Homo sapiens: one gene and its partners. The protein of the gene in region 1 purifies or fractionates together with the protein of each later gene. This does not show direct contact. Each region holds a gene or a part of one and is shown in the gene's direction. Other genes may lie near its edges. The genes, in order: RAD23A, EEF1A1, PSMC2 and USP5.

Region 1 (6,948 bases):
GCAGTTTCTCTGTCCTAAACTAGAAGGGAAAAGAGAATCTTGGGGTCTCCAGTGACTGTCTGTACCACTCCCTCTAGGTGAAGGTGCTAAAGGAGAAGATAGAAGCTGAGAAGGGTCGTGATGCCTTCCCCGTGGCTGGACAGAAACTCATCTATGCCGGCAAGATCTTGAGTGACGATGTCCCTATCAGGGACTATCGCATCGATGAGAAGAACTTTGTGGTCGTCATGGTGACCAAGGTGGGTGACGTGTGCTGGCTGGGAGGGTGGGTGGACGAGCTGGGGAGCTGGCAAAGAGCCTGTGTGCCCAGGAGAGATTAGCTGTGAACAGGGCGGGGCCACAGCGGAGCGGGTTGTTGGGTCTGATAGGGTTGCTGATGCCAGCTCCCTTTTTCTTGCTGTTGCAGACCAAAGCCGGCCAGGGTACCTCAGCACCCCCAGAGGCCTCACCCACAGCTGCCCCAGAGTCCTCTACATCCTTCCCGCCTGCCCCCACCTCAGGCATGTCCCATCCCCCACCTGCCGCCAGAGAGGACAAGAGCCCATCAGAGGAATCCGCCCCCACGACGTCCCCAGAGTCTGTGTCAGGGTAAGGCGGGGGCAGCAGTCCCAGCTTGGGCCCTGTCCTCCTAGCACATTCCAGCGTCCACATAAGTGGTCCCACACACCTGGAGGGAGGGCAAGCCGCCAGAAGCCAGGGTCCGATTTCTCTCTCTTGAATTTGCAGCTCTGTTCCCTCTTCAGGTAGCAGCGGGCGAGAGGAAGACGCGGCCTCCACGCTAGGTGGGTGGGTGGTCCCCAGGGCAGAGGTGACTGGGTGCCCCAGCCATCAGCTGGGCCTTGTCTGGGTGCGGGAGGGCCTGGGAGCTGCCCTTTCCTCTTCCTGGTGACCTAGGCTTTGCTGCTTCCTCCACAGTGACGGGCTCTGAGTATGAGACGATGCTGACGGAGATCATGTCCATGGGCTATGAGCGAGAGCGGGTCGTGGCCGCCCTGAGAGCCAGCTACAACAACCCCCACCGAGCCGTGGAGTATCTGCTCACGGTGAGGTGGGGCTTCCGCCTCCCGGGGAGGCCTTGAGGGAGTACCCGGGCGTCACTGCCCTGATGGGCGGTTGGGAAGGCAAAACCTGCCCTGAAAAGCCTTTGGGTAGTGATTCTAGCCACTAAAGGCTTCCCACAGGAGGCTGGATGTGAGTGATGGGTGGGCCTCTGGAGGGCAGGGCCGAGGCCTCATCTGTGTCCTGCCAGGGCATGGAGGAGGGTGGCAGCAGGAGGTCTGTGCATTAGAACTAAACAGGACCCCTGACAGGGAATTCCTGGGAGCCCCGAGCCGGAACACGGTTCTGTCCAGGAGAGCCAGGTATCGGAGCAGCCGGCCACGGAAGCAGGTGGGTGTGCACATGCCGCATCTGCCCTCCAGGTACCTGACTCACATTACACTCCACCCCGCAGTGCTCCTAGGAGCCCGGCGTGGTGTCTGACTGCACCCCTTCCTACTACCAGCAGGAGAGAACCCCCTGGAGTTCCTGCGGGACCAGCCCCAGTTCCAGAACATGCGGCAGGTGATTCAGCAGAACCCTGCGCTGCTGCCCGCCCTGCTCCAGCAGCTGGGCCAGGAGAACCCTCAGCTTTTACAGGTGTGGTCCCAAGGGCAGAGGGAGCTAGGGCAGCCACCATTTCCCTTCCCTGTGGGCACCAGAGTCCATAACACGTAGGAATCGTTCTAGGTCCGGAAAGCAGGACTAAGCACATGCTTCCCCCACGCCCCTGTGCTTCCTGTGACCTGGTGACCCCCCTGGTTTCTCAGTCTTCCCAACCACCTTGTAAGGTGTGGGTGCTGTCAACATCACCTCCCACAGAAGAAGACACCGGAAACTTAGAGCAGCCTGTCATTCCCAGGGTCACGCAGCTGGTAGTGTGTGTGTCTGCCTCCTGCCTCGGGGTGGGGTCCTGGGCTGGGGCTCTGGCTTCACATACAGATGGTGCTGCGTAAATGTCTGTAAGGTGGCATGACGTCACCCAGGACAGCTGTGCCCCAGTTGGCTCTGGGACAACTCTGCTCAGTGAGGCTCCATCTTGCCCTTGAAGGTTCACAGGAAGAGTGGGGGAGTGGCCCCCTGGGTGCAAGTAGGTTCCTCTGGGTTCTCGGTGAAGTGCCTACCGGTCTTGGCTCAGGACCCTGCTGTCTGACCCTTCTCCTCTCACTTCTCAGTCCCTTGCCAGCTCCTCCTGGTCGGTCGTGTTCTTCATCTGCACTCAGCCCTCCCTCATAGTGTCCTGGGGCCTTCAGTCTGTATGGGAACCCCCAAATCTATGTAGCCAGCCCAGGCCTCTCTGAATGCCACACTCCATGGCTGGCTTAATTAACTCTCCATCAAAGTGCTCCCTAGACTAGACGTCTAAGACTTAGAACAGACCTCCCCAGTCCTCCCCGATCTCTGCAAGGATTAGCTTGGGGTTGCTTCAGCCCCAGGCCCTGGGGATCTGCTGGGGTCTACCCCTTGTCCTGTCTGCTCTTCCCACTCAGCCCCTCCCTGCACTCCAGCTCTCTGGTAGCCTCTTCCTGGGCCTCTGCCACTGCATAGTCCCACAGTCCACTTTTCAACCATGAGGCAGATGACTAAAAAGCACTTTCTTTTCTTTTTTTTTTTGAGAGGAAATCTCGCTCTGTCGCCCAGGCTGGAGTGCAATGGCGCAATCCCGGCTCACTGCAACCTCCGCCTCCCGGGTTCAAGCGATTCTTTTGCCCCCGCCCGAGTAGCTGGGACTACAGGCGCCCGCCACCACGCCTGACTAATTTTTTGTATTTTTAGTAGAGATGGGATTTCACCCTGTTAGCCAGGATGGTCTCAATCTCCTGACCTAATGATCTGCCCGCCTTGGCCTCCCAAAGTGCTGCAATTACAGGCATGAGCCATCACACCTGGCTGACTGAAAAGCACTTTCTTCTTTAATGTGAAAATGATCAGATGCATACAATGGTAGAGTTATATCAGAGCTTCCAGATACCCAGGTAGGGCACAGTGGCTCATGCCTGTAATCCCAGCACTTTGGGAGGCTAAGGCAGGCAGACCACTTGGTCAGGAGTTTTAGACCAGCCTGGCCAACATGGCAAAAACTCGTCTCTACTATAAATACAAAAAGTAGCTGAGCATGGCGGCAGGCCACTGTAGTCCCAGCTACTCAGGAGGTGGAGGCAGGAGAATCGCTTGAACCCAGGAGGCAGAAATTACAGTGAACCGAGATTGCCCCACTGCACTCCAGCCTGGGTGACAGAGTGAGAGTGTCTCAAAAAGAACAGAAACAAAAATGAACAAATGAACTTCCAGATACCTAAATCCAACACCCAGATGAGTTCACTTTTTTTGGTTTGGGGGCTGGTAGGTGGGAATAGAGACAGGGTCTATGTTGCCCAGGCTGGTTTTGAACTCTTGGGCCCAAGCAGTCCCTCCTGCCTTGCCTCCCAAATTGTTGAGGTTACAGGCGTGAGCCACCACACCCGGCCAAGTTCACCTTTCTAAAAGATCCACAGACCACGTCTTTTCCCATGTAACTGTCACCACCGTGGCTTCCCCCTGCTCTAGAAAATGGGTCTGACTTGGGCCTTCCTCTCTGGTGTCATTGTCTGCCTCCTCCCCCTTCCCTTGTTCGCTGTTTTTTGTTTTTTTTGTTGTTGTTGTTTGTTTGTTTTTGAGATGGAGTTTCGCTCTTGTTGCCCAGGCTGGAGTGCAGTGGCGTGATCTCAGCTCACCGTAACCTCCGCCTCCTGGGTTCAAGAGATTCTCCTGCCTCAGCCCCCAGAGTAGCTGGGATTACAGGCATGTGCCACCACGCCCTGCTAATTTTATATTTTTAGTAGAGATGGGATTTCTCCATGTTGGTCAGGCTGCTCTCAAACTCCTGACCTCAAGTGATCTGCCTGCCTCAGCCTCCCAAAGTACTGGGATTGCAGGCATGAGGCACCGTGCCCAGCCCCATTCACTCTGTTCCTGCTTCTGTTTCTGAGACTTCCCAGATGCATCCACCCTGGGCCTTTGCACTTGCTGTTTGCTTTACCTGGAGGAAACCCTCTGCATCCGCCATACTGCAGGCCTCTCCACCAGCCCTCATCTGCAGTTCCTTCCTAGCCAGACACTTGCAGTTGTCTGGTTCATTTATTGGCTCACTCACTTATTTTTTGAGAGTCTCTTGCCCAGGCTGGAGTGCAGTGGCACAGTCTCGGCTCCCTGCAACCTCTGCCTCCTGTGTTCAAGTGATTCTCCTACCTTAGCCTTCTTGAGTAGATGGGATTACAGGCACGTGCCATCACACCCAGCTAATTTTTGTATTTTAGTAGAGACGGAGTTTCACCATATTGGCCAGGCTGGTCTCGAACTCCAGGCTGGTCTAGAATCACCTGAAGTGATTATAGGTGTGAACCACTGCAGCCAGCCTATTTATGTATTTATTTATTCAAGACAGGGTCTTGCTCTGTTGCCCAGGCTGGAGTTCAGTGGCTTACTGCAGCCTCCGCCTCCTGGGTTCAGTCTTATGCCTCAGCCTGCCAAGTAGCTGGGATTACAGGCGTCTGCCACCACACCTGGCTACTTTTTGTATTCTTAGTAGAGATGGGGGTTCACCATGTTGGCCAGGCTGGACTCGAACTCCTGACCTCAAGTGATCCACCTGCCTCTGCCTCCCAAAGTGCTGGGATTACAGGTGTGAGCCACCGTGCCCGGCTTATTTCTTGGCTCACTTAAAAGCACATCATCAGCTCTTCCAGGGTAGGGCTTGTGTCGACTGCTATGTTGTGTTTGGCCAGAACAGGCTCCTCTGGATATTTGCCTGACTGAATGAAAAAGCAAGGGCTGTGATGACCTGGGGAGAGGAGGGGACCAGGGCTGTGAATTACCTTCCCTTCCCCACCCTCTCCTGCAGCAAATCAGCCGGCACCAGGAGCAGTTCATCCAGATGCTGAACGAGCCCCCTGGGGAGCTGGCGGACATCTCAGATGTGGAGGGGGAGGTGGGCGCCATAGGAGAGGAGGCCCCGCAGATGAACTACATCCAGGTGACGCCGCAGGAGAAAGAAGCTATAGAGAGGGTAAGAGGCCTGGCTGAGGGGTGACTGCAGGTGGGCAGGACCCCTACCCTCTCCTGCTCACACTTAACCTATCTTCCCACAGTTGAAGGCCCTGGGCTTCCCAGAGAGCCTGGTCATCCAGGCCTATTTCGCGTGTGAAAAAAATGAGAACTTGGCTGCCAACTTCCTCCTGAGTCAGAACTTTGATGACGAGTGATGCCAGGAAGCCAGGCCACCGAAGCCCCCACCCTACCCTTATTCCATGAAAGTTTTATAAAAGAAAAAATATATATATATTCATGTTTATTTAAGAAATGGAAAAAAAAATCAAAAATCTTAAAAAAACAAGCAAACAGTCCAGCTTCCTGTCCTCCTAAAGTGGCCCCTGTTCCCATCTCCCGGGCCAGACAGCTGTCCCCCCGTCCTCCTCCCCAGCCCAGCCTGCTCAGAGAAGCTGGCAGGACTGGGAGGCGACAGATGGGCCCCTCTTGGCCTCTGTCCCAGCTCTCTGCAGCCAGACGGAAAGGCGGCTGCTTGCCTCTCCATCCTCCGAAAAACCCCTGAGGACCCCCCCCCATCCTCTTCTAGGATGAGGGGAAGCTGGAGCCCCAACTTTGATCCTCCATTGGAGTGGCCCAAATCTTTCCATCTAGGGCAAGTCCTGAAAGGCCCAAGGCCCCCTCCCCAGTCTGGCCTTGGCCTCCAGCCTGGAGAAGGGCTAACATCAGCTCATTGTCAAGGCCACCCCCACCCCAGAACAGAACCGTGTCTCTGATAAAGGTTTTGAAGTGAATAAAGTTTTAAAAACTAGCCCTATGGTCTGTGCCTGCTGGGGCTCCCCGCGCCCACCTGTCTGGGTCTTGGGGGGCTGGCTGGGCACAGGCAGGCATGGTGACGGGTGCCTGGAAGGGGGAGAGGAGTCTGTGAGTCCCTGCAGATTGAGGCTTCCGGTGTCTCCTCCCCCAGTGTGTCATTTCCAGGCAGTGGACCCCAGCCCAACGTTACAAGGACTGCTTCTCCCCGGCCCCCACCATCATCACCACAGTCTGTTTTGGCTATACTTCCCCCCCCACCAGCCTTGTAATTGGCTAATTACTGGAGATGAATGTTGGTAAACAGAAGCCTTCTTCTCTTCTGCCATCTGCTTCTCCATTATTTGCCCATTGTACACCCCCCTTTTCCTCCCACTGAAGCCCCAGTTAGTCAGCAGGGCCTAGAGTCCCTGTCCCCTTTTGAGTACAGCCAAGTGGGGGATTCCCCAGCTCTTAAGTATTGGGGGAGGAACCAGGGGACCCAGAGAGGCACACCTTGAGAGGACGCAGATCTCTTCAGGGGTACTGCCAGGTAGCAGGCTTTATTGGGAAGGGACAAAGCCTCAGGAGCTGGGTGCCCCAGAGGCTGCTGGGTCTTGAGCCACAGCTGCAGCCAATGCAGCAGCTCGCGCCTCCTTCTTCCGTTTCTGTTTTTCCTCCTTGAGGCGCTTGCGCTCCTTCTTCTCTAGGTCCTGGAGCAGCTCCTGGAAGCGGGCACTCCTTGGGTCCACCTGGTAGCCCAGGAGCTCCTGGGCCTCAGCCTGCAGTCGGGCCCTCCTCTCCTTGTCAGCCTGGGCCTTCTCCCAGTTCTCCCGCTGCTGCTGCTGCCAGTTCACAATCATCTGTGGCATCTTGGCCATGCACTCTGCGATGTGCTGCTCCCTGCAGGGGAGGGAGAGTGGGCTGTGACACTGGCACTCAGCCAGGGCAGAGCCCACCCACCCATATCTCACCCATAGGCCTTTGCCCACGAGCCTGCCTCCTCAACTCCCCCAGTAGATTAACTGTCAGGAAAAGCCCTTGACAAGTGAAGAAACAGGAAGAGATGATGAGAAAGTTACCTGTGCATGAATT
Region 2 (9,637 bases), on another chromosome or scaffold:
AAAAGCGCTAATGATTATTTTCTAAGTATAATGAGCGCTGACATTTGTAAAAATGGTTTGCATCATCTGGTCCATTATCTTATTTAATCCTTATGATCAATTCTATGAAATAGATGTTAGATTATTTTACTATGAAATAATGAGCTCAGGCCAGGCGTGGTGGCTCATGCCTGTAATCCCAGCAATTTGGGAGGCCGAGGAGGGCAGATCATGAGGTCAGGAGTTCAAGACCAGCCTGGCCAACATAGTGAAACCTCGTCTCTACTAAAAATACAAAAAAATTAGCCAGGCATGGTGGTGGGCGCCTGTAATCCCAGCTGCTTGGGAGGTTGAGACAGAAGAATCACTTGAACCCAGGAGGCGGAGGTTGCAGTGACCGGAGATTGCACCACTGCATTTCAGCCTGGGTGACAGTGCGAGACTCCATCTCAAAAAATAAAAATAAAAAAAAGAAATAATGAGCTCAAGTGTGATTTATTCAAGATCACTCTGATAAAGAAATTATGTGGGACTACGAATATATTCCAGCTTGTCTCTTAGTCAAGTGCTCTGTTAACTATATCACCTATGAAGACAAAGAAATACTGAAAATTCATATGATTTATAAAATATGGATTCACAAATGAATACTGAGTGAGGGGGCCCTGCTACTGGGCTTACAACTGCTGGGCTCTGCTCAGGAACCCTAATCTGGTCCAGAGTGAGCAGTATGGTCTCAGCCCAGCGTTTCACGAGTCTTCAAGCCTTCAGGCTTTCTTTTAATCAAGATGAGTGATAAACCCAAACTTGTCAGAAGTGAAGTTTGACAGGTCAAAATTGAAGAAAACTAACACTGGAGAAAAAAATAGGCTTTCTTCCAAGGAAACTATCCAGCAGGAGAAATACGGTGTTCAAACATCATATAATGGGGGCTGGGCATGATGGCTCACGTCTGTAATCTTTGGTAGGCTGAGGTGGGTGGATCACCTGAGGTCAGGAGTTCGAGACCACCCTGGCCAACATGGCTAAGCCCTGTCTCTATTAAAAATACAAAAATTAGCCAGGTGTGGTGGCACATGTCTGTAGTCACAGCTACTCGGGAGACTGAGGCAGGAGAATCGCTTGAACCCGGGAGGCGGAGGTTGCAGTGAGCTGAGATCATGACACTGCACTCCAGCCTGGGTGACAGAGTGAGACTCCATCTCAAACAAACAAAGAAAAAAATGAATTAGGCATGGTGGTGTATGCCTGCAATCCCAGCTACATGGAAGTCTCAGGCGGGTGAATCACTTGAACCCGGGAGGCGGAGGTTGTAGTGAGCCAAGATCATGCCACTGTATTCTAGCCTGGGTGACAGAATAAGACTCCGTCTCAAAACAAAACAAAACAAAGCAAAACACCAAAAATCTTCCCATTGGCACATAAATTCCACATGGCAGATGCTGCCAATAATCTAACCATTGATGACCTGTGTGTGTATAGTCTTTGCACCTCCTACAGGAAAAGCCAATTTTAACCTTCTATGAGTGTCTCCATTGCTTCATAATCTTTATGAAGTTGCATGCCTTTGCAGCTTCTCAGAGTGTATTTTCATTTCTAATGTAGCAATAAAATAATATACTTACTAAAAAAAATAGCAAGGGAAGAAAATCATTTCCTTCATACCAAGTAAGAGAGCACTTATCATGGTAGGCACTGGCTTTGCAATTATGAGACCAGTAGTAGAAATAGCTTTAGTTTCCTCAATTTTCCTGGAGTATTCTTCAGACTTTCTTTACACTGCTAAAATGAGAGTAACATTTCATTGTATAACCTCTGTACAATTTCTTACCATGTACATGTATTACCTACGTAAAAATGCTTACAATTACAAAGATACCAATGAGTTTATTTTCTCTACTGACTCAAGTTGGTGTCACAGGCATACCAATTAAGGACAGGCATTCTCCAAAAAGCATGTAGAAACACTGTCTTTTGTACTAATAAAGAGCCCCCATGTCTTTTCATGTCATTGCATATTAGAATTGTGACATAGGTGTTAAGTAGGAACAAAGAGGCAACCCATTTCACAGATGTACTCAGAACTGCTGGGCTGTCATAGGTCTAAGCAGAAGAGCGAGGACTAAATCCCTAATTTTCTGACACCGATGCCACTGATATTTTCATTATATCAGGCTGCCTCGACCTGCTGGTAAGGGTTAGGACTAGCTCTCTGACAGATTACCCTGGTTCCAATCCTGCTCTGCTGGGCCCTAAGGTACCATGAAAAAAGATCACCAAGCTGTATTAGGTGAAAAAAGCAAGGTGGCATATTGTATTTTACCATTTTGTGCAAAAAAAGGTAAAACTTTAAAAAAGAATATATGTCTATATGTGCTTATTACGCATAAACTGCCTGTTGCCCATTGCTGCTCCATCTATACAATGTGGGTGGTAGGATTACAATAAATATTGCAAATATTAGAACAGTGCCTGTCACACTAAAGTGTCATTTTATTTGGATTCTCGGCTGGGCGTGGTGGCTCATGCCTGTAATCCTAGCACTTTGGGAGGCCGAGTTGGGCAGATCACGAGGTCAGGAGATCAAGACCGTCCTGGCTAACATGGTGAAACCCCCATCTCTACTAAAAAAAATACAAAAAATTAGCTGGGTGTGGTGGCCGGCGCCTGTAGTCCCAGCTACTCGGGAGGCTGAGGCAGAATGGCATGAACCCGGGAGGCGGAGCTTGCAGTGAGCCGAGATCGTGCCACTGCACTCCAGCCTGGGTGACAGAGTGAGACTCCATCTCAAAAAAAAAAAAAAAAAAAAAAATTGGATTCTCAGTCCAAATAGTTCCTTGGCTTAATCATATTCTAAAATACCCCTTTAAAAAAAAAAATATATATATATATATATATAGTTTTTTCTGAGATGCAGTCTCACTTTGTTACCCAGGCTGGAGTGCAGTGGCACGATTTCTGCTCACTGCAACCTCCTCCTCCCGGGTTCAAGCAATTCTCCTGCCTCAGCCTCCCAAGTAGCTGTGATTATAGGTGCACACCACCAAGCCTGGCTAATTTTTATATCTTTAGTAGAGACGGGAGTCTCACCATGTTGGCCAGGCTGGTCTCGAACTCTTACCTCAGGTGATCCGCCTGACTCGGCCTCCCAAAGTGCTGGGATTACAGGCGTGAGCCACCGCACCGGGCCATCATCTTTTCTTCAGAGGTAGCTACAGCAGATGAAAAGATTTAAAAATCATTTTCACGTGGCAAGCCATGGTAAAATGTAACTATTTAAGGCTGCTTTAAATTAGACTAATAGCAGAGTGGTCAGACTATACTGAAAGCTTGGTGAATCACAATTAAGTACCTCAAAGAACTATTCTTGTTTGCCTTATTCCTATGTAAATAACTGAAATCTTTGTTTTTCTTCCTAAAAGGGGTCATGTTGATTTTTACTTACAATGTATTTTAAGTTTGTCACTCTAAATGGTTATGAGCAAGTTTAAGAAAAATCTTCAGCAAATACTACCTTAGATTATGACCCCAAAACACATTTACGAGCCTCAACATCGTTACTGTTACCGCTTTAACATTTAAGGCAGTAAAAAGCATACTGGATCTCTGTAAAGGCGTAGGGGTGCGGGGAATCCGTTATGATTATGTTGAAAACATAGGGTCTGGGGAAAAAGGGATTTAAAATAAGAAGAAAAAGAAGACTTGGGACTTAAAAAGTCTTTTAGAGGCCAGCTCACGGTGACAAAAACCGACCCTCACCCCGAGCCACGTGAGGTTTTCTGCTTCCTCCCAGGCCCTTCCTTCCGCAGTCAGAAGGCGGAAGAAAAGTTACCTCAAGGTGGGGCGAGTGGCAGGGCGGACCCTGGCGACCTGACGCTGCGGAGGCTCGAGCGGCGTATCCATACCACCCAGCTGTTCGCCGCGGGAACCCGCCGGCCCGCAGGTGACCCAGCGCTGGAAAAACGCCAGCGACGTGGCCTGGCGAGCTGGCGCGGGGCAAGGACCACCCGCGCCCGCCTTGCCGCCCCAGCCTCCCTCCCTAGGAAGCAGGGTGCGCCCCGGTGCGCGCGGGGCTTCCCCGGACCGGCGTTCCAGTCCCTCTCCGGCTTCCGGCCCACCCCGGCCCCACTGAGAGCAGAAATGTGATCTCTGCCCTGAGAAAATGCTCGTGGCCAGTGACTACCCCTAACGCACAATAATATGGCTCCGATGGGCTCAAAGGTATTGGTTTTTTGTTTTGTTTTGAGACAAGGTCTCACTCGGTCGCCCAGGCTGGAGTGCAATTGCGTGATCTTGACTCACTGCAACCTCCGCTTCCCGGGCTCAAGCGATTCTCCTGCCTCAGCCTCCCAAGTAGCTGGGATTACAGGCATGCGCCACCACGCCCGGCTAATTTTGTATTTTCAGTAGACAGGGTTTCACCATGTTGGCCAGGCTGGTCTCGAACTCCTGGCCTCAAATTATACGTCCGCCTCGGCCTCCCAAGGTGCTGGTATTATAGGCGTGAGCCACCGCGCCCGGTCCAGTGTTGGTTCTTAAACGCGAGAATTGAGATCTCCCTTCACCTAATGAAAGTCTCGGCCACTATCGCAACATTCAGAACACCCAGTCTGTGTTGCACAATATGTTACTTAGGTATAAATCAAGGATTCATGTAATTTTGTCATTCCTTGCGTGATATTTTAAAAAACATTCTGTGTAAGGTATTTATAAAGCGTTTACTATTATCCGCAATCACAGGGGCTTGAGGAAAAACTTTGACTGTGGCCGGGCACCGTGGCTCACGCCTGTAATCCCAGCACTTTGGGAGACCGAGCCGGGTGGATCACTTGAGGTCAGCAGTTCGAGACCAGCCTGGCCAACATGGTGAAACCCCCGTCTCTTCTAAAAATACAAAAATTTGTGGGGCGCGCTTGTAGTCCCAGCTACTTGGGAGGCTGAGGCAGGAGGAATCGCTTGAACTCGGGAGGCAGAGCTTGCAGTGAGCCGAGATCGCGCCACTGCACTCCAGCCTGGGCAACAGAGTAGAACTCCGTCTCAAAAAAAAAAAAAAAAAAGAAAGAAAGAAAAAAAAGTGGACTGTGAAAACTGAAAGGACTAGAAAAACTACACTACAAAGATACAGAAACCAAGAAAGCACCATAGCGTTTGCCTTCAACTGCTTCCCAACTTGTTTTCCTCTTCCAATTTGATTGTGGTTTCCTCTCCAGAAGGAACTCCACAGTACTTAGCGTTGGCCACATAGTAGGTTCTCAAATACTTGTTAATAAATAAGTTTGTTCGAGAAGCTGGGCAATGATATTCTACAGCTGGAAGAAGAAACATAATGATCTAGTAATTAGCTCATTAAAAATAAACGTTCTTCTTTCCTCAGAGGAGCATTTCCCAAGGCCTGCCTTGATAGCCATCCAAAAAGGCCAAGCTCATCCAATCTTGCCCTAGATTTATGCTAAAATGCAGTTACAATCGATAGGATGACAGAAAACGACAGCACTTATTTAAATATAATAGGCACTTATTTAAATAGGAGAAGCTGTGACTTCATAGCAAGTGTTGGGGTTAGGAAACTGGGTGGATAAACTTGCTGATGCTGTAGATCTTAGCCTCTACATGAGATCATGTGGAAAATCTGAAAGCATTTTAGGTTCCTTATGTTTGCAATCAAATAACTGTACACCTTTTAATTTAAAAAGTACCATGAGGCACACACACACACTCGCAGGAACTTTTTGGCGTAACAAAACTAGAATTAGATCTAAAGCTAACTGTAGGACTGAGTCTATTCTAAACTGAAAGCCTGGACATCTGGAGTACCAGGGGGAGATGACGTGTTACGGGCTTCCATAAAAGCAGCTGGCTTTGAATGGAAGGAGCCAAGAGGCCAGCACAGGAGCGGATTCGTCGCTTTCACGGCCATCGAGCCGAACCTCTCGCAAGTCCGTGAGCCGTTAAGGAGGCCCCCAGTCCCGACCCTTCGCCCCAAGCCCCTCGGGGTCCCCGGGCCTGGTACTCCTTGCCACACGGGAGGGGCGCGGAAGCCGGGGCGGAGGAGGAGCCAACCCCGGGCTGGGCTGAGACCCGCAGAGGAAGACGCTCTAGGGATTTGTCCCGGACTAGCGAGATGGCAAGGCTGAGGACGGGAGGCTGATTGAGAGGCGAAGGTACACCCTAATCTCAATACAACCTTTGGAGCTAAGCCAGCAATGGTAGAGGGAAGATTCTGCACGTCCCTTCCAGGCGGCCTCCCCGTCACCACCCCCCCCAACCCGCCCCGACCGGAGCTGAGAGTAATTCATACAAAAGGACTCGCCCCTGCCTTGGGGAATCCCAGGGACCGTCGTTAAACTCCCACTAACGTAGAACCCAGAGATCGCTGCGTTCCCGCCCCCTCACCCGCCCGCTCTCGTCATCACTGAGGTGGAGAAGAGCATGCGTGAGGCTCCGGTGCCCGTCAGTGGGCAGAGCGCACATCGCCCACAGTCCCCGAGAAGTTGGGGGGAGGGGTCGGCAATTGAACCGGTGCCTAGAGAAGGTGGCGCGGGGTAAACTGGGAAAGTGATGTCGTGTACTGGCTCCGCCTTTTTCCCGAGGGTGGGGGAGAACCGTATATAAGTGCAGTAGTCGCCGTGAACGTTCTTTTTCGCAACGGGTTTGCCGCCAGAACACAGGTAAGTGCCGTGTGTGGTTCCCGCGGGCCTGGCCTCTTTACGGGTTATGGCCCTTGCGTGCCTTGAATTACTTCCACGCCCCTGGCTGCAGTACGTGATTCTTGATCCCGAGCTTCGGGTTGGAAGTGGGTGGGAGAGTTCGAGGCCTTGCGCTTAAGGAGCCCCTTCGCCTCGTGCTTGAGTTGAGGCCTGGCTTGGGCGCTGGGGCCGCCGCGTGCGAATCTGGTGGCACCTTCGCGCCTGTCTCGCTGCTTTCGATAAGTCTCTAGCCATTTAAAATTTTTGATGACCTGCTGCGACGCTTTTTTTCTGGCAAGATAGTCTTGTAAATGCGGGCCAAGATCTGCACACTGGTATTTCGGTTTTTGGGGCCGCGGGCGGCGACGGGGCCCGTGCGTCCCAGCGCACATGTTCGGCGAGGCGGGGCCTGCGAGCGCGGCCACCGAGAATCGGACGGGGGTAGTCTCAAGCTGGCCGGCCTGCTCTGGTGCCTGGCCTCGCGCCGCCGTGTATCGCCCCGCCCTGGGCGGCAAGGCTGGCCCGGTCGGCACCAGTTGCGTGAGCGGAAAGATGGCCGCTTCCCGGCCCTGCTGCAGGGAGCTCAAAATGGAGGACGCGGCGCTCGGGAGAGCGGGCGGGTGAGTCACCCACACAAAGGAAAAGGGCCTTTCCGTCCTCAGCCGTCGCTTCATGTGACTCCACGGAGTACCGGGCGCCGTCCAGGCACCTCGATTAGTTCTCGAGCTTTTGGAGTACGTCGTCTTTAGGTTGGGGGGAGGGGTTTTATGCGATGGAGTTTCCCCACACTGAGTGGGTGGAGACTGAAGTTAGGCCAGCTTGGCACTTGATGTAATTCTCCTTGGAATTTGCCCTTTTTGAGTTTGGATCTTGGTTCATTCTCAAGCCTCAGACAGTGGTTCAAAGTTTTTTTCTTCCATTTCAGGTGTCGTGAAAACTACCCCTAAAAGCCAAAATGGGAAAGGAAAAGACTCATATCAACATTGTCGTCATTGGACACGTAGATTCGGGCAAGTCCACCACTACTGGCCATCTGATCTATAAATGCGGTGGCATCGACAAAAGAACCATTGAAAAATTTGAGAAGGAGGCTGCTGAGGTATGTTTAATACCAGAAAGGGAAAGATCAACTAAAATGAGTTTTACCAGCAGAATCATTAGGTGATTTCCCCAGAACTAGTGAGTGGTTTAGATCTGAATGCTAATAGTTAAGACCTTACTTATGAAATAATTTTGCTTTTGGTGACTTCTGTAATCGTATTGCTAGTGAGTAGATTTGGATGTTAATAGTTAAGATCCGACTTATAAAAGTTTGATTTTTGGTTGCTTCTGTAACCCAAAGTGACTAAAATCACTTTGGACTTGGAGTTGTAAAGTGGAAACTGCCAATTAAGGGCTGGGGACAAGGAAATTGAAGCTGGAGTTTGTGTTTTAGTAACCAAGTAACGACTCTTAATCCTTACAGATGGGAAAGGGCTCCTTCAAGTATGCCTGGGTCTTGGATAAACTGAAAGCTGAGCGTGAACGTGGTATCACCATTGATATCTCCTTGTGGAAATTTGAGACCAGCAAGTACTATGTGACTATCATTGATGCCCCAGGACACAGAGACTTTATCAAAAACATGATTACAGGGACATCTCAGGTTGGTGGGATTAATAATTCTAGGTTTCTTTATCCCAAAAGGCTTGCTTTGTACACTGGTTTTGTCATTTGGAGAGTTGACAGGGATATGTCTTTGCTTTCTTTAAAGGCTGACTGTGCTGTCCTGATTGTTGCTGCTGGTGTTGGTGAATTTGAAGCTGGTATCTCCAAGAATGGGCAGACCCGAGAGCATGCCCTTCTGGCTTACACACTGGGTGTGAAACAACTAATTGTCGGTGTTAACAAAATGGATTCCACTGAGCCACCCTACAGCCAGAAGAGATATGAGGAAATTGTTAAGGAAGTCAGCACTTACATTAAGAAAATTGGCTACAACCCCGACACAGTAGCATTTGTGCCAATTTCTGGTTGGAATGGTGACAACATGCTGGAGCCAAGTGCTAACGTAAGTGGCTTTCAAGACCATTGTTAAAAAGCTCTGGGAATGGCGATTTCATGCTTACACAAATTGGCATGCTTGTGTTTCAGATGCCTTGGTTCAAGGGATGGAAAGTCACCCGTAAGGATGGCAATGCCAGTGGAACCACGCTGCTTGAGGCTCTGGACTGCATCCTACCACCAACTCGTCCAACTGACAAGCCCTTGCGCCTGCCTCTCCAGGATGTCTACAAAATTGGTGGTAAGTTGGCTGTAAACAAAGTTGAATTTGAGTTGATAGAGTACTGTCTGCCTTCATAGGTATTTAGTATGCTGTAAATATTTTTAGGTATTGGTACTGTTCCTGTTGGCCGAGTGGAGACTGGTGTTCTCAAACCCGGTATGGTGGTCACCTTTGCTCCAGTCAACGTTACAACGGAAGTAAAATCTGTCGAAATGCACCATGAAGCTTTGAGTGAAGCTCTTCCTGGGGACAATGTGGGCTTCAATGTCAAGAATGTGTCTGTCAAGGATGTTCGTCGTGGCAACGTTGCTGGTGACAGCAAAAATGACCCACCAATGGAAGCAGCTGGCTTCACTGCTCAGGTAACAATTTAAAGTAACATTAACTTATTGCAGAGGCTAAAGTCATTTGAGACTTTGGATTTGCACTGAATGCAAATCTTTTTTCCAAGGTGATTATCCTGAACCATCCAGGCCAAATAAGCGCCGGCTATGCCCCTGTATTGGATTGCCACACGGCTCACATTGCATGCAAGTTTGCTGAGCTGAAGGAAAAGATTGATCGCCGTTCTGGTAAAAAGCTGGAAGATGGCCCTAAATTCTTGAAGTCTGGTGATGCTGCCATTGTTGATATGGTTCCTGGCAAGCCCATGTGTGTTGAGAGCTTCTCAGACTATCCACCTTTGGGTAAGGATGACTACTTAAAT
Region 3 (6,920 bases), on another chromosome or scaffold:
AAAGCACTTTGTTGATTTAGAAGTAGTCTGATTTTTGTTATACAGAAGTGGTAAGTGTGAAAATTGTGTCTCTATCACAGCCAGAGAGGTTTGTGAACCTTGGCATTGAGCCTCCCAAGGGCGTGCTGCTCTTTGGTCCACCCGGTACAGGCAAGACACTCTGTGCGCGGGCAGTTGCTAATCGGACTGATGCGTGCTTCATTCGAGTTATTGGATCTGAGCTTGTACAGAAATACGTCGGTGAGGTAAAGTAAATTTATCAAAGAATATATAGCCTTGTGAAAGATTTTACAGTATGAATGAAATTAAAAATGGCACTTCTGCATTGAGGGATCCAGACCTGAAATTTCTTTTTTCTTTTGTTGAGACAGAGTCTCATTGTGTTGCCCAGGCTGGAGTGCAGTGACATGATCTCAGCTCACTGCAGTCTCTACCTCTCTGGGCTTAGGCGATCCTCCCATCTCAGCCTCTCAGGTAGCTGAGACCATGGCTACATGCCACCACACCCAGCTAATTTTTCTATTTTTTGTAGAGAGGGGTTTTACCATGTGGCCCAGCTGGTCTCAAACTCCTGGGCTCAAGTGATCCATCTGCTTTGGCCTCCCAGAGTGCTGGTAGTATAGGCAAGAACCACCACGCCCGGCCTGAGACCTGAAATTTCTTGATTGTAATTAGTAGTTTAGAAGCTGCCTTTGTGGTCATTTGGAGATAGGCAACCACTTAAAATTTTAACCAGTATGCCCCCTCCTCAAAAGGGTGACATTTTCTACAGATGTGGCTTTTCTACGGAAATGCCTGGTAAATTAATTAAAAAGTATACTTTTACTTCAGGGGCAGTGTTTTCAGTCCTAATGAGAAAGTGAGAACATAGGTTGTTTTTATGTTTGTAGACATACATATATATATATATATATATATATATTTAGAGAATAAGTCTAGGGCTATATGTATTGTATCTGAAACCTGTTGATGATTCGTATATTTACAATAAGAATTAGCTACGGAGCTGCGTGAGTTGAGGTATCCTTTTATTCCCTAACTAAAACTTGCAAGTCAAATTCAATGATCAGGAATTCCAAGTGATAGATCAGATGCTTTTATTTACTCAAGTTTTACTAATTAGAATGGTTCCTTTATTTAACTATTAATTTGACCTCTTCAGATCTGAAACCTATTGCTATTTAATAGATACAGAATCATGAAAATGACTTAATATTTTAAGGCTGGCAAGATTAATTTGGTGGACTGGGGAGCAAACTTCAGTCTTTTTTAAAAAAAGTTTAGATAGGCCAGGCACGGTGGCTCATGCCTGTAATCCTAGCACTTTGGGAGGCAGAGGCAGGCGGATCACCTAAGGTCAGGAGTTGGAAACCAGCCTGACCAACATGGAGAAACCCCGTCTCCATTGAAAATAGAAAAAGCCGGGTGTGGTGGCGCATGTCTGTAATCCCAGCTCCTCGGGAGGCCGAGGCATGAGAATCGCTTGAACCCAGAAGGCGAAGGTTGCACTGAGCCAAGATCGTGCCATTGCACACCAGCCTGGGCAACAAGAGTGAAACTCTGTCTCAAAAAATAAAATTAAAATAGCTGCGCGCAGTGGCTCACGTCTGTAATCCCAGCACTTTGGGAGGCTGAGACGGGTGGAACATGAGGTCAGGAGTTCAATGCCAGCCTGGCCAAGATGCTGAAACCCCGTCTCTACTAAAAATACAAAAATTAGCGGGGTGTGGTGACACATGCCTGTAATCCCAGCTACCCGGGAGGCTGAGGTAGGGGAATCGCTTGAACCCAGGCGGCAGAGGTTGCAGTGAGCCGAGCTCGCACCACTGCACTCCAGCCTGGGCGACAGAGGAAGACTCCATCTCAAAAAAATAAAAAAATAAAAAACGTTTAGGTAATAATGGGTGAGAATACTGTTAGGAATAAATATTGAAAAGTTTGAAGCATAACTTTTTACTTATTTTAAAATATTTTGAAACCAATTTTGAATTAATAAATCATTTTTCTCATTAGGGGGCTCGAATGGTTCGTGAACTCTTTGAAATGGCCAGAACAAAAAAAGCCTGCCTTATCTTCTTTGATGAAATTGATGCTATTGGAGGTGAGAATGATACGTTAGAGAACTGCTTTAGGATTCAGTTTCATGAAAGCTGTAAAGTGATATGTCGTGATATGTTAATCTTGTACAGAATTTTAACTCCAACTCTTCTATGAGCTCTGAAACAGTGGCGCCACAGATCTAATAAGTAGTAGTGCTAAACTATAAAGGCAAGAAGACACATTATATACCATTGTCATTTTTTCAAAGCCTTTATTTTTGTGCTATGGGTTGAATATCCCTTAGCCGAAATGTTTGAGAAGTGTTTTGGAATTCACATATTTTGGATTTTGGCTTTTGAAGTACTTGCATTATACTGATTGAGTATCCCAAATCTGAAAACCTGAAATCTAAAGTGCTCCAATGAGTATTGCTTTTGTCATGTTGGTGCTCAAACTTTCAAATTTTGAAGCATTTTGGATTTTGCATTTGCAAATTTGGGATGCTCAGTCTATATCTGATTTCATTCATACAACACCTATTTCCATACTTTAAACAACTCGTAAATTGAGAAGTATCATCTAATGTCATAAGAAAGCACTGGGGCATAATTTAATTGATGGTGGTTTTTCTTAGTGCACATAAAATAATGTTCTTGTTGGCTTCACAGATTTGATGAAATACAGTATTAGCCATGAAATCTAGACTTTTTTTTTTGTTTTAAGAAACAGTCTCACTCTGTTGCTCAGGTTGGAGTTCAGTGGCATGATCTTGGCTCACTGCAACCTCTGCCTCCTGGGTTCAAGCAATTCTCATGTCTCAGCCTCCTGAGTAGCTGCAATTACAGATGCCTACCACCATGCCTGGCTAATTTTTGTATTTTTAGTAGAGACGTGGTTTCACCATGTTGGCCAGGCTGGTCTCGAACTCCTGAGGACAAGTTATTTTAACTAATCTCTGAGCCTCAGTTTGCTCATCTTATAAAGGGAATAATTGTTGTCTTGTGTACTTCATGAGTTTTTGAGAGGTCCAAATTAAGTAATAAATGTGGTAGACTTTGAAAACACTAAACTGCCCCATAGGCAGTTTAAAAAACGTTAAGTAAATCTGTGATGAATACTTTTGAAAGCAAAGATTCACTTTCTAATTAGTTTTATATAAAGCAAGCTGTTCTTACAGGATTTGCTTCAAAGTGGGATGTCACTTGTGCCTGAGGACATGATTTGAGCTGAGATTTTTGGTACTTTCAGGTCATGCATAGTGCTACTCTTGAGTGGACTTGAAGAGCTTATCTTTCCTTTTGTCTTCTCAGGGGCTCGTTTTGATGATGGTGCTGGAGGTGACAATGAAGTGCAGAGAACAATGTTGGAACTGATCAATCAGCTTGATGGTTTTGATCCTAGAGGCAATATTAAAGTGCTGATGGCCACTAACAGACCTGATACTTTGGATCCAGCACTGATGAGGCCAGGGAGATTGGATAGAAAAATTGAATTTAGCTTGCCCGATCTAGAGGTAAGAAAACCATTTCATTTTAGGAAAGGGATTTTTGAAGTTTTTTCTTCCTGTGATTTTTTTCCATTTTAATATTTGTCAATTTTCTCATTTTTAGGGTCGGACCCACATATTTAAGATTCACGCTCGTTCAATGAGTGTTGAAAGAGATATCAGATTTGAACTGTTAGCACGACTGTGTCCAAATAGCACTGGTAAGTAGAAAGTTCTTGCTTATATTTGCTGGTCTGTCTGCTCAGGCTGCTTTAATTAAGCCCGTTTATTTTCTTTTTGTTTGAAAGGTGCTGAGATTAGAAGCGTCTGCACAGAGGCTGGTATGTTTGCCATCAGAGCACGGCGAAAAATTGCTACCGAGAAGGATTTCTTGGAAGCTGTAAATAAGGTCATTAAGTCTTATGCCAAATTCAGTGCTACTCCTCGTTACATGACATACAACTGAACCCTGAAGGCTTTCAAGTGAAAACTTTAAATTGGAATCCTAACCTTATATAGACTTGTTAATAACCAATTCATAAACAAATAAATGGCTTCAAAATTGTATGCTTTTTTCCATATCTCTTCTTGTAATATAATAAAAGGTGATTTCTAATGTTATTAGGCAGAAAAGCTTGTTAGAATATATTTTGACTATTTTTTTGACCCACACCCGTTTAAGGATTTCACATCATACAAAGCGCTTGCTTAGATGGCTTCTATCCTAGGCATATGCTGGCCGGGTGCTCTACATATAAATTCTCATTGTATCCTCCCATCTGTCCACTGAGGAAGATTATCAAATGGATCTTCATCCAATGGATGCATAAACTTTCCTACTTACTTGTAGTGGCAAAGCTGGCTTTCAAGTACAAGTTTGTTGGCTCCATTACCTATGCTCCTATTATCCGCTTCTGTCCCGCAACAAAGTAGCTCACTTAGGCGTATGACCACATGCATTATGATAGTTTCCCACCACCATATTGAATAATAAAAGCTTTGGCCAAAGCTTTTTTAAAGTAGGAGAAACATTGGATGTATATGTTTTGCATTGCCATTTGATTTCAAATTAATCAGGAAGAATTAGTGATTTTAATGAGCAGTAAAGTGGTGCAATAAAGCAGAAAGAAAAATGTTCAGCCAGAAGTGAAAGACTAGTAAAAAAAGAAAAAAAAATATTTGTACATATGATCTAATTTAGAAAGTCCAGAATTGGCTTCATACAGAAAAGTGATTACTTTCATTTTACAAATTACTTTAAAATTTTGGTAAAGTTTCTGTTAGGCTTCTGGTCTACAGTGAGGTATTTTAAAAATAAAGGTTATATTAGAATCCTCAACATCTCTTTAAAATTACCTCCTGTGTAACCACCACCAAATCCTATCTTCTACCACAATTACCCCTTCCCCCAATGCCAAGACCAAAGCACAATAATGAATATTTTTATTGAAGTTCGATATTCATAAATAAGTTGCAAAATAAGAGTTGGATATATTTTTAATTCACAATAGAAAAAGTTGACAACATAGAAAATGCTGCTTTGCACTGAAATACTTAAAATTATGAAAGTTTTCAAGTAAAGAAATTAAAGCCTTTTATAAAATCCAACCAACATTCTTGATTTTTCATTTTTATGAACTTGATCAGAAAAATTCATCTTTTTTAACCCTGCCCTAATTTTTCTTGAGGAATTAAATAGAGCAAACTATTTTCAGGTTATGCTTACAATAAAATATACTTAAGAAAATGACTGAAGATGTATGTTTTTGAATGTTTTGATTAAATAAATGTACACATTTAGAACACACTCTGAAGTCTTTCCACTTTGTCATGGCCACGTGCTCATATATACCAATTAAAGACAACTCGAATTAGATAATGTTGAGCACACTCTGTTCTAACGATACAGAGTGACTATCGTGATAATTTAGGTCCATAAGGAAAATCTAATCGGCCACACATCAAATGTAAAATCAACTACTTTAAAAATTTGGGTTTTTCTGTCAAGGCATATTTATGCAGGTAGCATCAACATTGCCTAGGTCAGCATGTTTGTACTCAAAGAGATGAAACAGACATTTACCAGTAACTTCCTCCACCTAAAATAGATGTGTCTATATACATGTGTGTAGATGCACATATATATATATACATGTGTCAGGGTGCTGATAAGTTAGAATACAAAGGATTTATGACTTTAGAAAAATATACCGTAGAATCCTGTTTAAAAACTTCTTAGTGTTAAAAATGTGATTAGGTGTATTAAAAAACTCCGTTTTCATGATGCTTCTGAGGTTTATCTGTTACGTAAAGTGAAATGCAATACACCAGTATAATGAAAAGCCTGGTACAGCTTTCTCAAAGGCCAGGTGGAGTTTTAAGATGCTCAAACTTGATAAAATCTAAGTCACTAAGCAGGCACGTTACCTGGTGTGGTGCTAACTTTTACCGTTGTGTTGCTGGGATTGGAGGGGTTTCAAAACCATTGCATGCATTTTGGTTAGCTGTATGTTTGAAGAATTCAGTAATACTTTTATAGTTCTCAAACTTTTATGAGCATTCAAAACAGTAAGAATCTAAACATCGTGAATCCTAAAGGCACTCCTGAAAGGTAAGGTGCACTAAAAAGGACCAATAGCATTTTTTTGCACTCAGTAAAGCATACAGGCTCACACCAAGGAAGTTCGGTTTCATTTTAGAATTTAAATTGATTTACTATCTTTAAAGGGGCAGACATAAAAGAGCCTTCCCCACCACCTGCTCTTCCCTCCCTCATCCCCACACAAGGGCACACCCCCACCCCCCCAACACACACACAAAAACACACCCACCCACCCCAGGACAGATTCACTAGGTTTGCTACCCTCTCTTTTCTTCATCCACGCAAGAGAGCAGACTCATTTTCTCAAAGTGTACACTCAGAGGCTGGTACTGTCTTTCTCTGCTAAACAGGTAAGGACACAGGATCAAACCACACAGAGTGGATGTTTTAGATGTTTCCTGCAACTACAAAATGAGCTATTCCAGGGCTTGAAGAGGATCCATACCCTTAACAGTTTCTTGGGGTTCCACTGCAGATGAGATTGGCAATTGGGATCCCATTATCAGCTGCCATATACTAATACAGAGTCAGTGTCTAAGACATAGATTGGAGTTTCCTGGGCCCTGGTTCACAAATGTTTTCAAACATATTCCAACGATTCATGAGACATAGATCAACCACTGTCATACTGCACGAGATTTCAGAAGGTCAAAGGACTTTTCTTTATGGGACCTTCTTCAAAACAGTGCTTTCCCATATATTGCCATAAAATAAGGCTAGTGCTTAGATTATGTAGATTATGCCCATTTTGATAGGACAATATGAACCTGAATTTGAATCAGGGTGGAAAAA
Region 4 (6,650 bases), on another chromosome or scaffold:
CCCTGATGGAACCAAGGGGCCCTGGTAGGGGGGACACGGGTACTGACTCTATCTGTCACCTTGTCCTGCCCCAACCACTCCCTCTTCTGTGGCACAGGGTCTCTTTGTAGTGTAGCCTCTCTTCATTGCCCCTCAGTCATGGCTGAGCACAGGCACTTAGGATCAGCTGTGGGCAGAATTTGGATTTCCAGCAAATAGCCACACTTTGAGCCTAGCCATTGGCACCTGGCATGGGTGTGAGACCTGAAAAAGGGCTTTGGTCTCGGGGAGTCAGCTACCCAGCCCTTTGCTGCTCCTGCCAGTGAAACAGCTCTTCCTCTCTGTGTGGGTTTTTTTTTTTTTTCTATGTGTGGGTCTTGCTATGTTTTTTTCCCTACGTGTGGGTCTTGCTATGTTGCCCAGGTTGGTCTCTTAACTCCTGGGCTCAAGCAGTCGTCCTGCCTTGGCCTCCCAAAGTGCTGGAATTACAGATATGAGCCACCATGCCTGGGCTTTTTTCTTTTTCTTTTTTTTGTTGACAGCCTTCCTTCTGGCCTCTACTGCTCCTCGTTGGCCGAGGACAGGCATCAGACACCTGCCCAGGGGAAGAGAAGAATATGGAGGATCTTCTGGGTTATTGGGACTTCTACCCATGAGGGGCTGAACCCCAGGTGGGAGTTTCAGGAGAGGAAAACCCTGGGGATTGTCTGGGTACCAGCACAGTCTCTCTTCCCTAGGACCACACGATTTGCCTCATTCCCTGACTACCTGGTCATCCAGATCAAGAAGTTCACCTTCGGCTTAGACTGGGTGCCCAAGAAACTGGGTATGGCTGCTGGAATGAGGGAGGTTACACAGAAAATGCTAGAAAAAGAAGGGGCTTTAACACATATAAACTAGTGTTTCTCAAAGTTTCCTCTGAAAGAGGAAAAAAAATCACCTTCAATGTTTCAAAATTTATCTAGTTTGAAAGCACTAACTAAAAATATTAAAAGACTTCTTTGATTGTTATAGGTATGATTTACAACCAAAAGTGATTTTTGTAGTTTTTTAAAATAATTGGTAAAATGTTTTCATTTTGATAATCTTGAAACAATTAATTCTCGTGAGTCTTACAGGTCCCTGACTGTCATTTGAGAACTCGTGATGTACCTTCATTTTCTAGATAAGGAAGTTGAGACTCACAGGAATATAAAATCATTCTGTCTCACAAGTTCTAGGCCCCCTGCCCTGTCCATAGATTATTTATGGTAGATCTAGGACCAGCATCCTGGCCTCCCAACTCCCAGGCTTAGTATTATTTGTCTTATACTGGGACCCCTAAGATGGGTGCCGTGCTTTTAGCAGCTCCTCTTTACAGAGCAGTTCTGACATAGGGGGCAGGGGATTGAGGTTCCCGAATCACTTTCCAGGTAGGCCTCCGGGAGCTGCTGAGGTGACCCTTTTCCCACAGATGTGTCCATCGAGATGCCAGAGGAGCTCGACATCTCCCAGTTGAGGGGCACAGGGCTGCAGCCCGGAGAGGAGGAGCTGCCAGACATTGCCCCACCCCTGGTCACTCCGGATGAGCCCAAAGGTAGCCTTGGTTTCTATGGCAACGAAGACGAAGACTCCTTCTGCTCCCCTCACTTCTCCTCTCCGACATGTTAGTGACTCTTCTTCCTGCCTGTCTCTCTCCCGTGCTGATGGGGGCCTCTCTGCCTTGCATCCCCTGCCCCTGTCCTTTGTGTTTCTCCTGTCCTCCCTTTCAAATTTCCTCTGCCCTCTTTGATTGACATGGGGCCTCCCCAGCGCACTCCTAGCCACCTTCTGGGTGTGGATGGCAGCAGTGCCAGCTAGTGGCCTCTCTGCCCTTGTTACCTCCCTGGTTTGGGTAGGGTGGGGGTATCATGCTCCAGAAACAGGGCCCATTCTGTGAGAATGGGCAGGGACCCACATTACAATTGTGTGGTCATTTTGGTTTTGGGATAAGGTGCCAATCCATGGGAGAAAAATGCATGGAATGGGTGATTGGAAGAGGGCTGGGTCCTGGGGGAGGGAGGAGGAGCAAACAGTGGCCCAATCAGTCGGTCCGTGTACCCACAATTCCCATTACAGCGCCCATGCTGGATGAATCAGTCATCATCCAGCTGGTGGAGATGGGATTCCCTATGGACGCCTGCCGCAAAGCTGTCTACTACACGGGCAACAGCGGGGCTGAGGCCGCCATGAACTGGGTCATGTCACACATGGATGATCCAGGTAGGCTGGGGTGGGGAGCAGGGTGGGGCAGGGCCTCCATCCTCCCCCAAACACATCAACCCCTTCACATCCACAGATTTTGCAAACCCCCTCATCCTGCCTGGCTCTAGTGGGCCGGGCTCCACAAGCGCAGCAGCCGACCCCCCTCCTGAGGACTGTGTGACCACCATTGTCTCCATGGGCTTCTCCCGGGACCAGGCCTTGAAAGCGCTGCGGGCCACGGTATGGGCTGCCCCAGCTAAGGACATGGGGCCAGTGGGGAAGAAGGGGGTGGGAATGAGGGGCCATCCTTCTTGAGCAAGACCAAAGACAACAGGTGTGGTCTGGCCGAGGTTGGGCACCACTCTTTTGTGGCTGCGATGAAGGAGCTGAAGCCTGCGTTCACTGCTGGGTTTTTTGCCCCAGAACTTGTTAAAAATGTAATGCTTCTGTTTGGCCGGGCGCGGTGGCTCACGCCTGTAATCCCAGCACTTTGGGAGGGTGAGGTGGGCGGATCACGCGGTCAGCAGATCAAGACCATCCTGGCTAACACGGTGAAACCCCGTCTCTACGAAAAATACAAAAAATTAACCAAGCGTGGTGGTGGGCGTCTGTAGTCCCAGCTACTTGGGAGGCTGAGGCAGGAGAAAGGCGTGAACCCGGGAGGCGGAGCTTGCAGTGAGCCGAGATCGCGCCACTGCACTCCAGCCTGGGCGACAGAGCAAGACTCCGTCTCAAGAAAAAAAGTAATGCTTCCTTCCTCTCCAAGAACAATAGTTTAGAACGGGCTGTGGACTGGATCTTCAGTCACATTGACGACCTGGATGCTGAAGCTGCCATGGACATCTCAGAGGGCCGCTCAGCTGCCGACTCCATCTCTGAGTCTGTGCCAGTGGGACCTAAAGTCCGGGATGGTCCTGGAAGTGAGTATCCCCAGGAAGCAGGACAGGCCTGGTGGAATCTGGTCAGTCTACTACACCAGATCCCTCATTCAGGCAGCTCTGCCCTCCTCAGGAGTCAGGGGCTTCTTTCCACCTCAACGTGGCATCTGAGGGTGGGGTTCTCTGACATGGAGACAGGCTCTGGCCCAGTACCTGCCTCACATTCCCTGAAACTCCTGTCCTGAGTCTGAGCTGTTGTCTGGATCTTTGGGCCATCACTCAAGCATTCCTCTTCTGTTTCCTTCTCTGACCCCCTCTCTCCTTTCCTAGAGTATCAGCTCTTTGCCTTCATTAGTCACATGGGCACCTCTACCATGTGTGGTCACTACGTCTGCCACATCAAGAAAGAAGGCAGGTGAGTGCTGGCCACATGCGTTTTGAATGGAGAATGGTGGTGGGAATGAGGAGGGCCATTTGGAAGTCCTTGGGATAGCTATGGGAGAAGGTGAAGGGACTGCCTGATGGGGACATAAAGTGCCAGAGAGTGACAGAAGGTCTTGCAGCAGTGATTGGCCCAAGGGTTGGATCTGGCCACCAGCTTTTTTTTTAAATAGAGATGGGATCTCACTATGTTGCCCAGGCTGGTCTTGAACTCCTGAGCTCAAGTGATCCTTCTGCCTCGGCCTCCCAAAGTGCTAGGATTACAGGCATGAGCTACCGTGCCTGGCCAGGCCCCCTGCCTTTGTAAATAAATTTTCACTGGAACCTGGACACACTTGTTTATGTGTTGTTTGTGCCTGTTTTCACGCTGCGGCAGGAAAGTTGAGTCGTTGTGTCAGAGACCAGAGAGAGAGCCTGCAGAACCTCAAATACTATCTGGCCCTTGCCAGAAAAAGTTTACCAACCCCCTGCCTCCCTGGAATGGGTGGAGGGTGGTTGTAAAGGTACTGGAGGATCTGAAGACATAATAGGGTCCGTGACCCTTGTGAGGTTGTGAAGCTCCCTTAAGGCACATGGTGGCTGGGCTGTGGATTTGGGGTATGGGCAGAGAGTGTGGAGAGCACTTCCAGGGGCCATGTCTGAGAGACTACATGATGCCACTTTGAATGCCCAGTTTGTTCATCCTTTTCTGTTTTCCCCACTTCCCCAGATGGGTGATCTACAATGACCAGAAAGTGTGTGCCTCCGAGAAGCCGCCCAAGGACCTGGGCTACATCTACTTCTACCAGAGAGTGGCCAGCTAAGAGCCTGCCTCACCCCTTACCAATGAGGGCAGGGGAAGACCACCTGGCATGAGGGAGAGGGGCTGAGGGATGGACTTCAGCCCCTCTGCTCTGTACCCTTTTTCCTTTTGTCCCCGGCAGCAGGGAAGAAGCTGGAGGCCGTGGGAGAATGGCTGGGCAGAGCAGAGGGGCAGCGATAGACTCTGGGGATGGAGCAGGACGGGGACGGGAGGGGCCGGCCACCTGTCTGTAAGGAGACTTTGTTGCTTCCCCTGCCCCCGGAATCCACAGTGCTCTGCTTCTCTGTGTCGCCCCGCCCAGCCCCCTGGTGTGGAGGGAGGGGTCTCGTTTGTGCGCGTGGGTGTAGCTTTGTGCATCCTCTCCCAGTGGAGCGATCACCTGTGCCTCCCCTCCCCCTTTGTTTGCCCCTGTGTGGTTGGTCAAGGAGGGATGTGAGGGAAATAGGGACCCCCCGACTTGCCCTCCTGCCTCAGTCTTTCCCCCACCCTGTCTCTTCCTTGTCCTTCTCTGGAAAATGCCAAAATACACGATGTGAATAAAAGTACAACGGCTAAATTGTGTCCTGTTTGATACCTTGGGGGAGAGGCTTACCTTCCTGGGGTTAGCAGGAGGGCGCTTAAGAAAACTCCTAACTCTGGCCGCCTCCCTGCCAAAGTCAAGTCTCCACTTTTCACTGGTTCTAGAGCTCTAGGAAAATTGGGGTTGGGTGGGGAGGTGGAGTAGAGTGACTAAATGCCGACACAAAGCCAAGGAAAGATGGAGTGAAGAACCCTTCCCTCTCTTTATTCACACAGGAGTGGAGGATTTCCCAAATGTCCCTAACTGGCTAGCTGGCTTCAGGCTGGGACTCAGTCCCTGCAGTTCCTGCCAGGCCTTGCCAGCCGGGGCGAGGGTTGGGATGATCCTGGCGGCCTATGCCTGTGTGGGCTGCCCCTCCCGCTGTGAACCCTGCATTTGTCCCGCAAGTTTTCACTCAGGTAGACTCCCTGGGTACAAGGGTGCCTGCTCAGCAGTCGGGCATGAGCTGCTCCGATGGGCGAAGGAGGTTGTCTATCCCACAGTTGGAGAGGGGCCCTCTCTGCCCCAGTGGGCGATCTGGGCTACGGCCAAGTTGCCACCAGCTAGTTCCGCTTGAAAACCACTTCTGGCCCCGTGGGGGACTCAAGTCGCCAAGCGAGGGTTCCCCTGAGCGCCGGAGCTCACAGGTCTCGCCTTGTCCCGAAAGCCCCGCAATCGAGGCGGAGGCGACCGAGCCCCCGACTCTCCTAGAACGTTGCCACAAGAAGGGGGAACGTCGGAACAGTGCATCATCGGGCGGCGGCCGGGGCGGCGGCAGGAGGGCGGGCGGGGGGCAGGGCTCCGGGGGACTGGGCGGGCCATGGCGGAGGACGGCGAGGAGGCGGAGTTCCACTTCGCGGCGCTCTATATAAGTGGGCAGTGGCCGCGACTGCGCGCAGACACTGACCTTCAGCGCCTCGGCTCCAGCGCCATGGCGCCCTCCAGGAAGTTCTTCGTTGGGGGAAACTGGAAGATGAACGGGCGGAAGCAGAGTCTGGGGGAGCTCATCGGCACTCTGAACGCGGCCAAGGTGCCGGCCGACACCGGTAAGCCCTCGCCGAGGAGGGGTCTGGCCGGGCCGGGGCCGGGGCCGGGGCAGGAGTGGCAGCGCCCTCTCCCGAGGCCCCGAGGCCCCGAGGCCGGTATCCGCGCGGACCTGATGCAGGGCTGTGGGACGAGGGCCGCTGGGGTCCGGGCAGGGGCCTCGCAGCCGCAGCCCCGTCGGTGCGTCGAGGGGGCAGGGCGGAGCACATGATGCCCCTTGGACTATGGGGCAGGTAAGGACGTTTTGGGTCTCCTGGAGGAAGGTGGCCCCGGGGCGCGCACTGGGGCTGTGCCCGCCAGGCGACGGGGTTAGGAGCGGAGCCCGAGGCTCTGCGGGAGACCGGGGGAGGCTGGGCCGCGTGGGCTTCCCGCTCCCTGCGCCCTGGCCTCCCGCGCCGTGCGCCGCCGCACGTAGCCCCAGACTCCTCCCCTTCCTCGCCGGCGTCCGCGTCCCCGCGCCGAGCTGCTCGGGCTCCCTGAGCCCCAGATCTGACCCCTTCCCTTCGGCAACCTGAACGACTCCCGCCTTCCACGGAAGGGACCGAGCCCGTGCCAAACAGGCTGAGCGATTTGGGAGTGAGGAGCCATCCTACCGCTTTCCCCAACCTGGAAACAGCAAAGCGCAAGGCCTCTGAGTCAGTTAGGTCTCTGCCACCCACGGGCAAAGGATGCTCTCCTCCATCCTCCTTCCTCCCTCCACCGAAATCGGAGAGCCGCGGGCCTG

What was found.
Region 2: the proteins of RAD23A (region 1) and EEF1A1 purify together in Homo sapiens (affinity purification with mass spectrometry; 2 studies listed by BioGRID and IntAct, with this or other methods). This does not show direct contact.
Region 3: the proteins of RAD23A (region 1) and PSMC2 purify together in Homo sapiens (affinity purification with western blotting; 4 studies listed by BioGRID and IntAct, with this or other methods). This does not show direct contact.
Region 4: the proteins of RAD23A (region 1) and USP5 purify together in Homo sapiens (affinity purification with mass spectrometry; 2 studies listed by BioGRID, with this or other methods). This does not show direct contact.

Annotation. Positions count from the first base shown.
Region 1 is NC_000019.10:12,947,771-12,954,718, forward strand, and holds the end of RAD23A (UV excision repair protein RAD23 homolog A), read left to right. Parts: intron 1-77; coding exon 78-239; intron 240-406; coding exon 407-588; intron 589-726; coding exon 727-782; intron 783-915; coding exon 916-1,043; intron 1,044-1,310; coding exon 1,311-1,389; intron 1,390-1,504; coding exon 1,505-1,638; intron 1,639-4,918; coding exon 4,919-5,083; intron 5,084-5,165; coding exon 5,166-5,279; 3' UTR 5,280-5,872; downstream 5,873-6,948. Other genes in the region: GADD45GIP1 (large ribosomal subunit protein mL64), read right to left, coding at 6,438-6,756. UniProt on the Homo sapiens protein: Multiubiquitin chain receptor involved in modulation of proteasomal degradation. Binds to 'Lys-48'-linked polyubiquitin chains in a length-dependent manner and with a lower affinity to 'Lys-63'-linked polyubiquitin chains.
Region 2 is NC_000006.12:73,518,010-73,527,646, reverse strand, and holds the start of EEF1A1 (elongation factor 1-alpha 1), read left to right. Parts: upstream 1-6,614; 5' UTR 6,615-6,647; intron 6,648-7,590; 5' UTR 7,591-7,620; coding exon 7,621-7,764; intron 7,765-8,130; coding exon 8,131-8,310; intron 8,311-8,418; coding exon 8,419-8,715; intron 8,716-8,798; coding exon 8,799-8,949; intron 8,950-9,036; coding exon 9,037-9,293; intron 9,294-9,382; coding exon 9,383-9,617; intron 9,618-9,637. UniProt on the Homo sapiens protein: Translation elongation factor that catalyzes the GTP-dependent binding of aminoacyl-tRNA (aa-tRNA) to the A-site of ribosomes during the elongation phase of protein synthesis.
Region 3 is NC_000007.14:103,364,063-103,370,982, forward strand, and holds the end of PSMC2 (26S proteasome regulatory subunit 7), read left to right. Parts: intron 1-80; coding exon 81-245; intron 246-2,013; coding exon 2,014-2,101; intron 2,102-3,350; coding exon 3,351-3,553; intron 3,554-3,650; coding exon 3,651-3,747; intron 3,748-3,834; coding exon 3,835-3,992; 3' UTR 3,993-5,333; downstream 5,334-6,920. UniProt on the Homo sapiens protein: Component of the 26S proteasome, a multiprotein complex involved in the ATP-dependent degradation of ubiquitinated proteins.
Region 4 is NC_000012.12:6,861,754-6,868,403, forward strand, and holds the end of USP5 (ubiquitin carboxyl-terminal hydrolase 5), read left to right. Parts: intron 1-716; coding exon 717-805; intron 806-1,391; exon of another isoform or gene 1,392-1,432; coding exon 1,433-1,624; intron 1,625-2,076; coding exon 2,077-2,220; intron 2,221-2,296; coding exon 2,297-2,442; intron 2,443-2,968; coding exon 2,969-3,122; intron 3,123-3,410; coding exon 3,411-3,495; intron 3,496-4,230; coding exon 4,231-4,324; 3' UTR 4,325-4,879; downstream 4,880-6,650. Other genes in the region: TPI1 (triosephosphate isomerase), read left to right, coding at 5,703-5,928. UniProt on the Homo sapiens protein: Deubiquitinating enzyme that participates in a wide range of cellular processes by specifically cleaving isopeptide bonds between ubiquitin and substrate proteins or ubiquitin itself.